3 linked regions of the Homo sapiens genome follow. The protein of the gene in region 3 purifies or fractionates together with the protein of the main gene of each other region. This does not show direct contact. Each region holds a gene or a part of one and is shown on either strand. Other genes may lie near its edges.

What was found.
Region 1: the proteins of MERTK (region 3) and LANCL1 purify together in Homo sapiens (affinity purification with mass spectrometry; one large-scale study listed by BioGRID and IntAct). This does not show direct contact.
Region 2: the proteins of MERTK (region 3) and YTHDF3 purify together in Homo sapiens (affinity purification with mass spectrometry; one large-scale study listed by BioGRID and IntAct). This does not show direct contact.

The regions. Positions count from the first base shown.
Region 1 is NC_000002.12:210,470,244-210,473,899, forward strand, and holds part of LANCL1 (glutathione S-transferase LANCL1), read right to left. Parts: intron 1,834-3,656; coding exon 1,716-1,833; intron 91-1,715; exon of another isoform or gene 1-90. UniProt on the Homo sapiens protein: Functions as a glutathione transferase. Catalyzes conjugation of the glutathione (GSH) to artificial substrates 1-chloro-2,4-dinitrobenzene (CDNB) and p-nitrophenyl acetate.
Region 2 is NC_000008.11:63,185,483-63,189,138, forward strand, and holds part of YTHDF3 (YTH domain-containing family protein 3), read left to right. Parts: intron 1-664; coding exon 665-2,263; intron 2,264-3,656. UniProt on the Homo sapiens protein: Specifically recognizes and binds N6-methyladenosine (m6A)-containing RNAs, and regulates their stability. M6A is a modification present at internal sites of mRNAs and some non-coding RNAs and plays a role in mRNA stability and processing.
Region 3 is NC_000002.12:111,996,015-111,999,670, reverse strand, and holds part of MERTK (tyrosine-protein kinase Mer precursor), read right to left. Parts: intron 2,349-3,656; coding exon 2,195-2,348; intron 1-2,194. UniProt on the Homo sapiens protein: Receptor tyrosine kinase that transduces signals from the extracellular matrix into the cytoplasm by binding to several ligands including LGALS3, TUB, TULP1 or GAS6.

The sequences.
Region 1 (3,656 bases), about 98 Mb from region 3:
CAAAATCCTGTCATTTCATTCTCATTTTAACTTTGTGTTAAGCTTCTACAATCCATAAAAATGATAAAACAATAAAATGGTCCAACATTATCTAGTCCAGTCTTATTTTTACAAAACATTGACTTTAAAAGTCCCTGAGATTTTAATTTTACTGGTTTAATCTGTCTTCCCTACCCTTGTTTAAAAAAAAATAGAATCATGTGTCATTATTGGTTGAGTACCCGTTATCTGAAATCCTTGGGACAAGTGTTTTGGATTTCAAATATTGAAATATTTGGCTTATATTTACCAGTTGAGTATCCCAAATCTGAACATCGGTAATCCTAAATGCTCGATGAACATTCCCTTTGAGTGTCACATCAGAGCTTAAAAAGCTTCAAATTTTGGAGCATTTTGGATTTCAGATTTTCAGATTTGGGATGCTCAACCTGTACTAAAGAGGAAGACTAATAAGAGATTGCTATTATTAATAAATTTCTCTCAGAAAGCTTTCAAACTGCAGTCTGTAGATCACCATCTGCATCAGGACCACTGATGGCTATAAAAGGCAAATTCCTGGGTTCTGCTCAAGATCTACTGAATCACAATCTCTGCTATGAGGCCATTTTTATGACAAATTCCACTCCTTAAAATCAAATTAAAATTCCCTGGATTGCAAGCTTATTCCTCCTTGCCCACTCTTTAAAGCGAATGGGAAACACTGAGTCTCTAGACTATGCTTTCTTCCAGATTACACAGCTGTCTTTTGTTTCTCTACATTTGGTAAATTAATTGCAGTTCTTCAACTTTTCTTCTTTGATTTTTTTTTTTTTTTTTTTTTTTGAGATGGAGTCTTGCTCCATCACCAGGCTGGAGTGCAGTGGAGTGATCTCATCTCACTGCAATCTCCACCTCCCAGGTTCAAGTGATTCTCCTGCCTCAGCCTCCTGAGTAGCTGGGACTACAGGTATGAGCCACCATGCCCAGCTAATTTTTGTAGTTTTAGTAAAGATGGGGTTGCACAGTGTTGGCCAGGATGGTCTTGATCTCTTGACCTCGTGATCCACCCGCCTCGGCCTCCCAAAGTGCTGGGATTACAGGTGTGAGCCACTGCGCCCAGCCTCTTCTTTGATTTTTCTCTTTCTCACCTTTTTTTGACATCAATGCACTGTTTCTTCCTAAACCTCCTCCAGCCTCTCAATGATTGAGATTGGCAATGCAGCAATTGCAAACCAAACAGCAATGACCATATGGGAGGATTAGTTCATGGAAGTAATACTTTACCCTGTATGGATTCCTGTATGGATTCCTGTTACGGGTTAACTTTTTAAAACATGCTTCTGGACATATTTTATTCCTGAGATCAATCCTCATTACCTCCGCTTCAGGCATTGTATTTTGGAACTCTTCCCAATTCTTCCCACTGAAATTACATCTGCAAATTAACTATGTAATATTGAAAATCAATTTTTCTCCTCACAAGTATAGCAGCCATCCAAATGTCAGGCATGAATTACATGAATATGCTTACCATGCCCTAAATTCAGGGCACTATTAAAAACCCAGAAGATACCATGGTTGGTTGGGTTGAGGGCACAGCACTCTCCCAGAAGCAATTACTCATATGCAGATGCAGGAAGCATTTAAGGGTGTACCATTCAGACAGACAGCTCTCGGAAAAATGCTCTGGCTCTTAAGCACAATGCTTATGCCAGCTCACAGTCAGCACTTCATACCTGCCCAGCCAGTGTAACCGGTGCCATCCCGAGGGTCTGCTGATTTCAGGCCTCTCTCCATTTGCTGAAGAAGCTCCCGAATCTTATTGGTCAAGCGTTGTGAGAACTCAGGAGTCAGCTAGATATTAAAGGAAAACAAGTATCAAAATAATGTGGGTCACCCAGCTTGCTGGACTATAAGCTATCAAAGACAGAAAGGTATTTCTTTTCCACTTAGGACATATTTTTCCACCTGGAAGACTAAACAATTTATTTTCTATTCTTAAACAACAACATCACATTAACAAAATTTATAAAATACCGTTGTAACTTATACATGTTTTAAATAAAATTTTTAGTTAAATACTAAAACAGACTGCCAATGATAAACTGGCTCACAGTAATTTTCCACCTAATAGTAATCGTCTATTATTTAAACCAATATTATAATAAAGTCTTTTTATTAAATTAAGCACAAATCAGATGTTTGGTGCTTTCAAACTACTGGATTTTTAGTATTCAAGCTGCAGCAAGGTAAATTCCCTAAAGAAACATCTAATTGCTCTTATTTAAAAAAAAGGATTTAAAAAAAATGAAGTAGCCAAAGAAAAGCAAAACAAATTCATGTATATCAAGAGCCTTAAGCAGAATAGAAAGAATATCAAACTTAGCATCATAAACCCACGTCCAGCACAGTGTCTGGCAGAGAATACGGGCTTCACAAATGTTTCTCAATGAATGAGCCTGTCTACATCCTTACCCGCTATTAGCTGATCTTGCTCAACTCATAACTTCTTTATGTTTCAAATACCTCCATAAAGTCAGGATAATAATAACTGCCACGCCAATTTCAAAAGGTACTTTGGGGATTAAATGAGATAGTGTATCACAAGTCTTTCTCATTCAGGGATGTAAATGTTGACATTTTTACTAATTCTTTAGCAGATCAAGGGTCTAAGGCAAGTAATAGTTTAGATATGGATTGAAAATACACTAAGGCTGGGGCTGTGGGGTTAGTACCACCCATATGAAGGTCCACAGATGCTGTGCAAACAGTGAGGCTCACACAATCATTACGTTATTCTTCTTAAAGGCAAATGAAAAATAATTTTAAACTTCTGCACACACTGAATCAGTGTCTTAAAAAGTCACTGAAGGCCGGGCACAGTGGCTAATGCCTGTAATCCTAGCATTTTGGGAGGCCGAGGTGGGCGGATAACCTGAGGTTAGGAGTTCGAGACCAGTCTGACCAACATGGAGAAACCCCATCTCTACTAAAAATACAAAATTAGTCGGGCATGGTGGTGAACGCCTGTAATCCCAGCTATTCGGAAGCCTGAGGCAGGAGAATTCCTTGAACCTGGGAGATGGAGGTTGTGGTGAGCCGAGATCGTGCCACTGCACTCCAGCCTGGGCAACAAGAGCGAAACTCCATCTCAAACAACAACAACAACAACAACAAAAACCCAAAAAACTCACTTTATTGTCTCCCTCAATAATTTTAAGAACTTGCTGTGATTCTAAGACTTGAATTTCACATAGTAATTAAAATTTCAGAACAATGTGGGGGAAAGTTACAAGGGTATAAACATTTTATTTTACCATGTAAGGATTGTAGAAATAAACCTAACCACTCACATCAGAATCTCATTTTTAAAAATGAGATAAAATCTTAACACTGAAAACAGCAAGAAGGCAGTATCAGAATTAACAACAACAACAATAGTTTAAGGATACGTTAAGATTCACTTCGGAGGAGCATCCTTGATAAGGCAAATCAGACTTTCAACCACATCTGGATTATTTAATCTAAAGCACCACTATGATCCCTTATTTCACTCTTTAGAAGAAACGACGTTGTTTGACAGACACACTCCCATTATTTAACAATTTCTGCAAAGAGGTTAAGATTTCAACTAGACTTGAAAATACATTTAGTAGGATAAAATATACTTCAATGTT
Region 2 (3,656 bases), on a different chromosome or scaffold from region 3:
TCTGTTATTCCACCAATAAGAAACTATGATAAGGAATTTGTTTTATGTCTTTTTTTGAAATGAACAAGGCAAAGCAAAACAAAAAGAAATTTGCATCATGCTATAAACGTAATCTTGAATCTTCTCAAGACTGTGAGCATTTCTCCATTTTTTCCTTAATGAAAGTACAAAATCTAATGGTTGAACTGGATTCCATCATATAGATAAGCTGTAATTCCTCTATTATTCGGCAGAGTTGTCTAGTTTATTTAATCCTTGTGTGTAAGTGATTGCATACATCAATTGATTAAAGTACAGCTGGCTGTAAATGGTAATTTTGTGTCCACAAAGTTTATATATTAGCCTTTTGTAGAAATTATGATATTTTTAAATTGTGACAGAGGGCCTGGCTCTTCAAACAAAAATAATACTCATTATACCCCCACTCTCATCCCTGAAAAAAGCCATATAGGTTAGTTTGTAAGAAATATTTTAAGATGTGACTACTCATCAGCAAATTTTTCTGTTGATAAAACTGGATTTGAAATTTTAATTTTGTTTATCTAGAATAGGTACATCTTTTATTTTCATTTACTTAAAACTTCTTGATTTTAATCTTTCAGATTTCTTTTTTTGCTCTTTTAAGAGGACATTTCGCTACTGATTGTGATATTTTGTTTTGCAGAGTAACAGCTATCCACCAATGTCAGATCCATACATGCCTAGTTACTATGCTCCATCCATTGGATTTCCATATTCTCTTGGGGAAGCAGCGTGGTCCACAGCTGGAGACCAGCCTATGCCATATCTGACAACCTATGGACAAATGAGTAATGGAGAACATCACTATATACCAGATGGTGTATTTAGTCAACCTGGGGCATTAGGAAATACCCCTCCATTTCTTGGTCAACATGGATTTAACTTTTTTCCTGGTAATGCTGATTTCTCTACATGGGGGACAAGTGGATCTCAGGGACAATCAACACAAAGTTCTGCTTATAGTAGCAGTTATGGCTATCCACCTAGTTCTCTTGGGAGAGCTATTACTGATGGACAGGCTGGATTTGGCAATGATACTTTGAGTAAGGTGCCTGGCATTAGCAGTATTGAGCAAGGCATGACTGGACTGAAAATTGGTGGTGACCTGACAGCTGCAGTGACAAAAACTGTAGGTACAGCTTTGAGCAGCAGTGGTATGACTAGCATTGCAACCAATAGTGTGCCCCCAGTTAGCAGTGCAGCACCTAAACCAACCTCCTGGGCTGCCATTGCCAGAAAGCCTGCCAAACCTCAACCGAAACTTAAACCCAAGGGCAATGTGGGAATTGGGGGTTCTGCTGTACCACCACCTCCTATAAAACACAACATGAATATTGGAACTTGGGATGAAAAAGGGTCAGTGGTAAAGGCTCCACCAACCCAACCAGTTCTGCCTCCTCAAACTATAATCCAGCAGCCTCAGCCATTAATTCAACCACCACCATTGGTGCAAAGCCAACTGCCTCAACAGCAGCCTCAACCACCACAACCACAGCAGCAACAAGGACCTCAGCCACAGGCCCAGCCTCACCAAGTGCAGCCTCAACAGCAGCAGCTGCAGAATCGCTGGGTAGCTCCTCGTAACAGGGGAGCAGGCTTCAACCAGAACAATGGAGCGGGCAGTGAAAACTTTGGTTTAGGTGTTGTACCTGTCAGTGCTTCACCTTCTAGTGTAGAAGTGCATCCCGTGCTGGAAAAGCTAAAGGCCATAAACAACTATAATCCCAAAGACTTTGATTGGAATCTGAAGAATGGACGTGTGTTTATAATTAAAAGCTACTCTGAGGATGACATACATCGTTCCATTAAATACTCTATCTGGTGTAGTACTGAGCATGGTAATAAGCGTTTGGATGCAGCTTACCGTTCCCTGAATGGGAAAGGCCCACTCTATTTACTCTTCAGTGTGAATGGCAGTGGACATTTTTGTGGAGTGGCTGAAATGAAGTCTGTTGTGGACTATAATGCGTATGCTGGTGTCTGGTCTCAGGATAAGTGGAAGGGCAAATTTGAAGTTAAATGGATCTTTGTCAAAGATGTTCCCAATAACCAATTACGGCATATTCGCTTAGAAAATAATGACAACAAACCGGTTACCAATTCAAGGGACACTCAAGAGGTACCCCTAGAAAAAGCTAAGCAAGTGCTTAAAATAATTGCTACTTTCAAGCATACCACCTCAATCTTTGATGACTTTGCACATTATGAAAAGCGTCAAGAAGAGGAGGAAGCCATGCGTAGGGTAAGAATATAGTAATTTTTTGTTTGGGGTCTTTGTATTGCTGGTGGGGTGCATGGATGGGTATATTCTGAGTTTAAGAACTTTCTGTGAAGGAAACCAACTACTTAAGAAACAACTCTACAAACACCCTTGAAGGTATCTATGTGTGTCCTATATGAACCATTTCTTCTTTCCTTTCCCAGGGTAACTCACGCTGAGTTAGCCTCTTGCTCATTCTTCATACTCCCTAGATGATAAAGGCCATTGGGCCTCAGTGTTTATCATCAAAGCTGAATGAATTTTGGCATTTGTAACTAAACAGACTTCATGAACTAACCAGGGGCTCTAATCATTAATATTATTAATCATACTAACATAGGAGAAAATATATTTAGAGTTTGAAACAACTTTTTTTTTGAGATGACATCTTGCTGTGTTGCCCAGGCTGGAGTGCAGTGGCTATTCACAGGTGCAGTTATGGCGTATAGCCTCAAGTTCCTGGCCCCAAGCAATCCTCCTGCCTTAGACTCCCAAGTAGCTGGGACTACAGACCTGTACCACTGAACCTGGCACTTAAAACAAGTTTTTATTTATTTATATTTTATATATTATTTAATTTTTTTTCAGACAGGGTCTCTCTTGTCCCGGCAGGAGTGTACTGGCGTGAACATGGCTCACTGCAGCCTTGATCTGCTGGGCTCAAGTGATCCTCCTACCTCAGCTTCCCGAGTAGCTGGGACTACGGTCACACACCACCACGCCTGGCTAATTTTTGTATTTATTGTAGATAGAGGGTTTCACCATGTTGCCCGGGCTGGTCTCCTGAGCTCAAAGGATCTGCCCCTACCCCTCTGCCTCCCAAAATGTTGGGATTACAGTCCTGAGTCACTGCACCCAGCTGAAACAACTTTTAAATAAATGTTTTACTCTAATTTTGTGTTTATAAGAAATTACATATATATATATATATATATATATTTTTTTTTTTTTTTTTTTTTTTCTTTTGTGAGATGGAGTCGCTCTCTGTCGCCCAGGCTGGAGTGCAATGGAGTGGTCTTGGCTCACTGCAACGTCCGCCTCCCGGATTCAAGTGATTCTCTTGCCTCAGCCTCCCGAGTAGCTGGGATTACAGGCACACGCCACCATGCCTGCCAAATTTTTGTATTTTTAATAGAGACGAGTTTCACCATGTTGGCCAGGCTGGTCTTGAACTGCTGACCTCGTGATCCGTGCGCCTCGGCCTCCCAAAGTGCTGGGATTACAGGCATGAGCCACTGTGCCTGGCAAAATATGTTTTTAAAACATAAAACTCTTGAAGTATTTTTATAATTTTTATACTTAAAGCACTTGTACAAAATAGAGGCTTTGCAGAATTTGATTCCTAATTCTGTTATATACCCTCTGTAAGATTGAG
Region 3 (3,656 bases):
TAGGTATGGAGCATATGAGAAATCTCTGTACTATCTTCTCAATGTTTCTGTAAAATTAAAACTGTTCTAAAAAATAAGGCTGGGATTCATGCCTGTAATCCCAGCACTTTGGGAAGCTGAGGCAGGAGGATCACTTGAGCCCAGGAGTTCAAGACCAGCGAGGGAAACAAAGTGAGATGCCTCATCTCTATAAAAAGTAAGAAAATTAGCCAGACATGGTGGTATGTGACTGTGGTCCCAGCTAATCGGGAGGCTGAGATGGGAGGATCACTTGGGTTCTGGAGGACAAGGCTGCAGTGAGCCATGAATGCACCACTGCACTCCAGCCTGGACGACAGAGCAAGATCCTGTCTCAAAAAAATAAATTAATTTTAAAAATAAAAAATGAAGTCTATTTTAATAATCCATTTAGTCACTGTTTTAGACTAATTGGTGGGAAAGTATTATGAATTTGAAAGTCTAGATTACAGATTTAATCTCAAGTTACCTTAGGTACATAGATTATTTTAAAGAGATAACACAATTTTGAAAAAAATACTGATGTACACAAAGCAAAGCACTTGGAAAGACGTATGCCAAAATAGCAACCAACACCATCTATGGGCCTGAAATGGGCCTCACTTTCTCCTTTTGACTATTCGATATAATCTGATTTTTAAAAAAATATAATGTTACTTTTATAAGTAAAAATAAAAGTATTTTCATTTAAAAATGAGCTGGAAAGTGGTTTTACAAAAGGAACAAATGAATAGATCTTGTAGTAAGGATCCATGGGAACTGACTTCGACATAGATAACAATAACCTGTTACAAGTCTTTCATTTGTTTTAAGCTTCTGCTGAGTTTAATGGTTCCTGGAAATAGTTTTATTTCTAAATATTTGAAATAGTATTGTAATCTTGTTAATATATTTGCTGTACTCAGCAGCCCCACTTTTTGGTAATGTGGCATGTGCTGCTCCTTCTGGCTGTAATGCTCTTCTTCTCTCTCATCTAATGAATACCTGCTCTTTCTTCAGATCTTAGCTCTGGTGTCAGCCACTTCTGCACAAAGGCCTTCCCTGACTTTCTTAATGCAGCCAAATTTTTCTGACACATTCTTACCCCTTTATATAGAATGTATTACAGTTGCCATTTTTAATCTATTTTGTGACTGCTTGACTACTGCCTGACTCCCCATGAACTGTGAACCCCATGAGGGCAGGATTTTGTTCACCACTGTATTCCAGGCTACCGCAGTGCCCAGTGCCTAGCAGGCCTTTAATACATATTAATGAGCTACTCTTGCAGCTTCTGCAGAGGTTCTCTGTACTTGTTTTATGATGAACCCACATGTCACACCAAGATCCTGGGATGTATTTTAGTCAATTATATGTTCAAGATTTAGATCAGATTTTGTCCACTTCTTTAAAATAGTCATTCTTAGAATTCACATACTAAGGTATAACAATTGTAAGAATAGGCTTATAAAGACTAAAGTAACTGACCCCTAAGACTGGGATGAACACAAATAAAGCGTAGCCTGGCTGCCAATCTTAAGCCCTTCCCACGCCTATGGCAAGTCTTGGAGCGAGTGGGATGTTCTAGTAGCATTCTGAAGGTGGAGCAATGAAAGAGGGAGGCTCAGCCCCCTCCAAAGTATAGCCATACACCCCTCACTCATTCTGTCCCACTCCAACCTGCCAACAACCCTCCTGGGTTCAAGCAATTCCTGTGCCTCAGCCTCTAAAGTAGCTGGGATTACAGGCGTGTGCCATCATGCCCAGCTAATTTTTGTATTTTCTGTAGAGATGACATTTTGCCATGGTGGCCAGGCTGGTCTCAAACTCCTGACCTCAAGTGATCCGCCTGCCTTGGCCTCCCAAAGTGCTGGGATTACAGGTGTGAGCCACCGCACTCGGCCTATTTTTAAGGCTTCTAATAAAAGTCCTCACTTAACAGCAATCCAGTTTGAGTAGCAAAGGCCTACTGATACTCTTCTCTGTAAAGGAACCCTTTTCAGGCCTGGCTTTTGCTGGCAGCTGCTTCTGTAGACCATGGCGTAAGTCAGGAAGCTGCCTGAGCCCAGGGTATGCATAAGGCAGGGCAGCCATCTGGGAGCAATGTAAGCAGCTGGCCCAACAGGAAAGGCATAATCACTTGGTATAACAACCTTGTCAATACCAGTGGGCAAACATTTTTAGCTGGGAGACTTACCCAAACTTTGTCTCCTGGACTCTTTTTCTGATGGCCAAGGAGATGTATAAAATCAACCCAATCAAAATAAATCCACAAAAGCAGCCAAAGATGATGAGCACAGGATCTGCGTTGCCAGGCGCCGGAGTTGAAGAGGGGGCATAATCTACCCAACCTGGTGAGATACCAATAGACCAGTCATGGGTTTGAAATATATGAGAAACACTGGCTTGTAACAGGGAAGAACAAATAGTCAAAGCTTTCAGAACTCAGTTAAATCTTTTATAATCTACAAATATAGGCAGGTCTCACTTTGTGTAAGCTGAGACCATGCGAAGAGATCTTAATAACTGATGGGAAACTAGCTTGATTTACTCATTCCATAACATATACATAGATCAAAATGTCACACTGTACTCCACAGGTATATACAATTTTTCAATTATTAATTAAAAATAGTAATTTTAAAATCAATGAGAAAACTCATGTCATTATACACGTACAAGAAAATAACAAAATTACAACTAATATTTACTTCTACTGTAGTTTAAAATGTTAGAAACATGAAAAATTAAAGTGTCATTTCTTTGTAAAAAAACGATCGAGAGTAGGTTAAATAGTTTGCCTTCTAGTCATGTAACTTATGATACAGAGAAAATATAGTTTCTCTGTTTTGAAGAATTGTCACATTCCTTTCTAAGTTTGGATCGACTGCTAATGTTTTAGCTTTTGTTCTTTCAATGTTGTAAAATATCTCCCAGTATTCCTTCAATGCTGTTTTTTGACAGTGTCGCTTTCTCTGGGACATTTTCAACCTTTTTGTCACAACCTCTTGATGTATGTGCATAAGTTCACCTTCACTAAGGACCGCTGGTTCACATCAGCAGGGGCAGTTATCAACTTCCCACAGTCTTGCATTCAATTCAAATTTTACGTTGAACACTATCACTTTGCATTTCTTTACTGCACTTTTACCTTTGTTCACCAACTCCCTCTTTCAATTACCCATTTTTGTAAAATGTCATGTGGGTTTGTCCCTGGGAGACAAGGAGGCAACACAGCCACATGTCTCCGCAAGGTGGGCACAAAAAGAATGACAAGGGCGCAGTGACCGATCACAACAGCCTTTGAAAGAAATGATGCCGTTGGTCATGATAGGATGTGCATCTGTTATTTCTACGATGGTTGGTGGCCTGAAGAGCCAGCAGCCCGAGTTTATGCTTTATGCCATTATGGTTAATATAGAATGGTAACTAAAATTGGAACTATATTTTTGGGGAATGGGTGTTATTTAACTGTGGTAATTGAAATTTGTGCATACTGGAGCCCTGCAAGGTAAGGACTGCCTGCATAGCAAACATGGCTTCCCCACGTTGGCCAGGTTGGTCTGGGACTCCTGACCTCAAGTGATCCAACTGCCTCGGCCTCCGAAAGTGCCGGGATTATAGGCATGAGCCACTGCGCCCAGCCTAAACTCCAATTT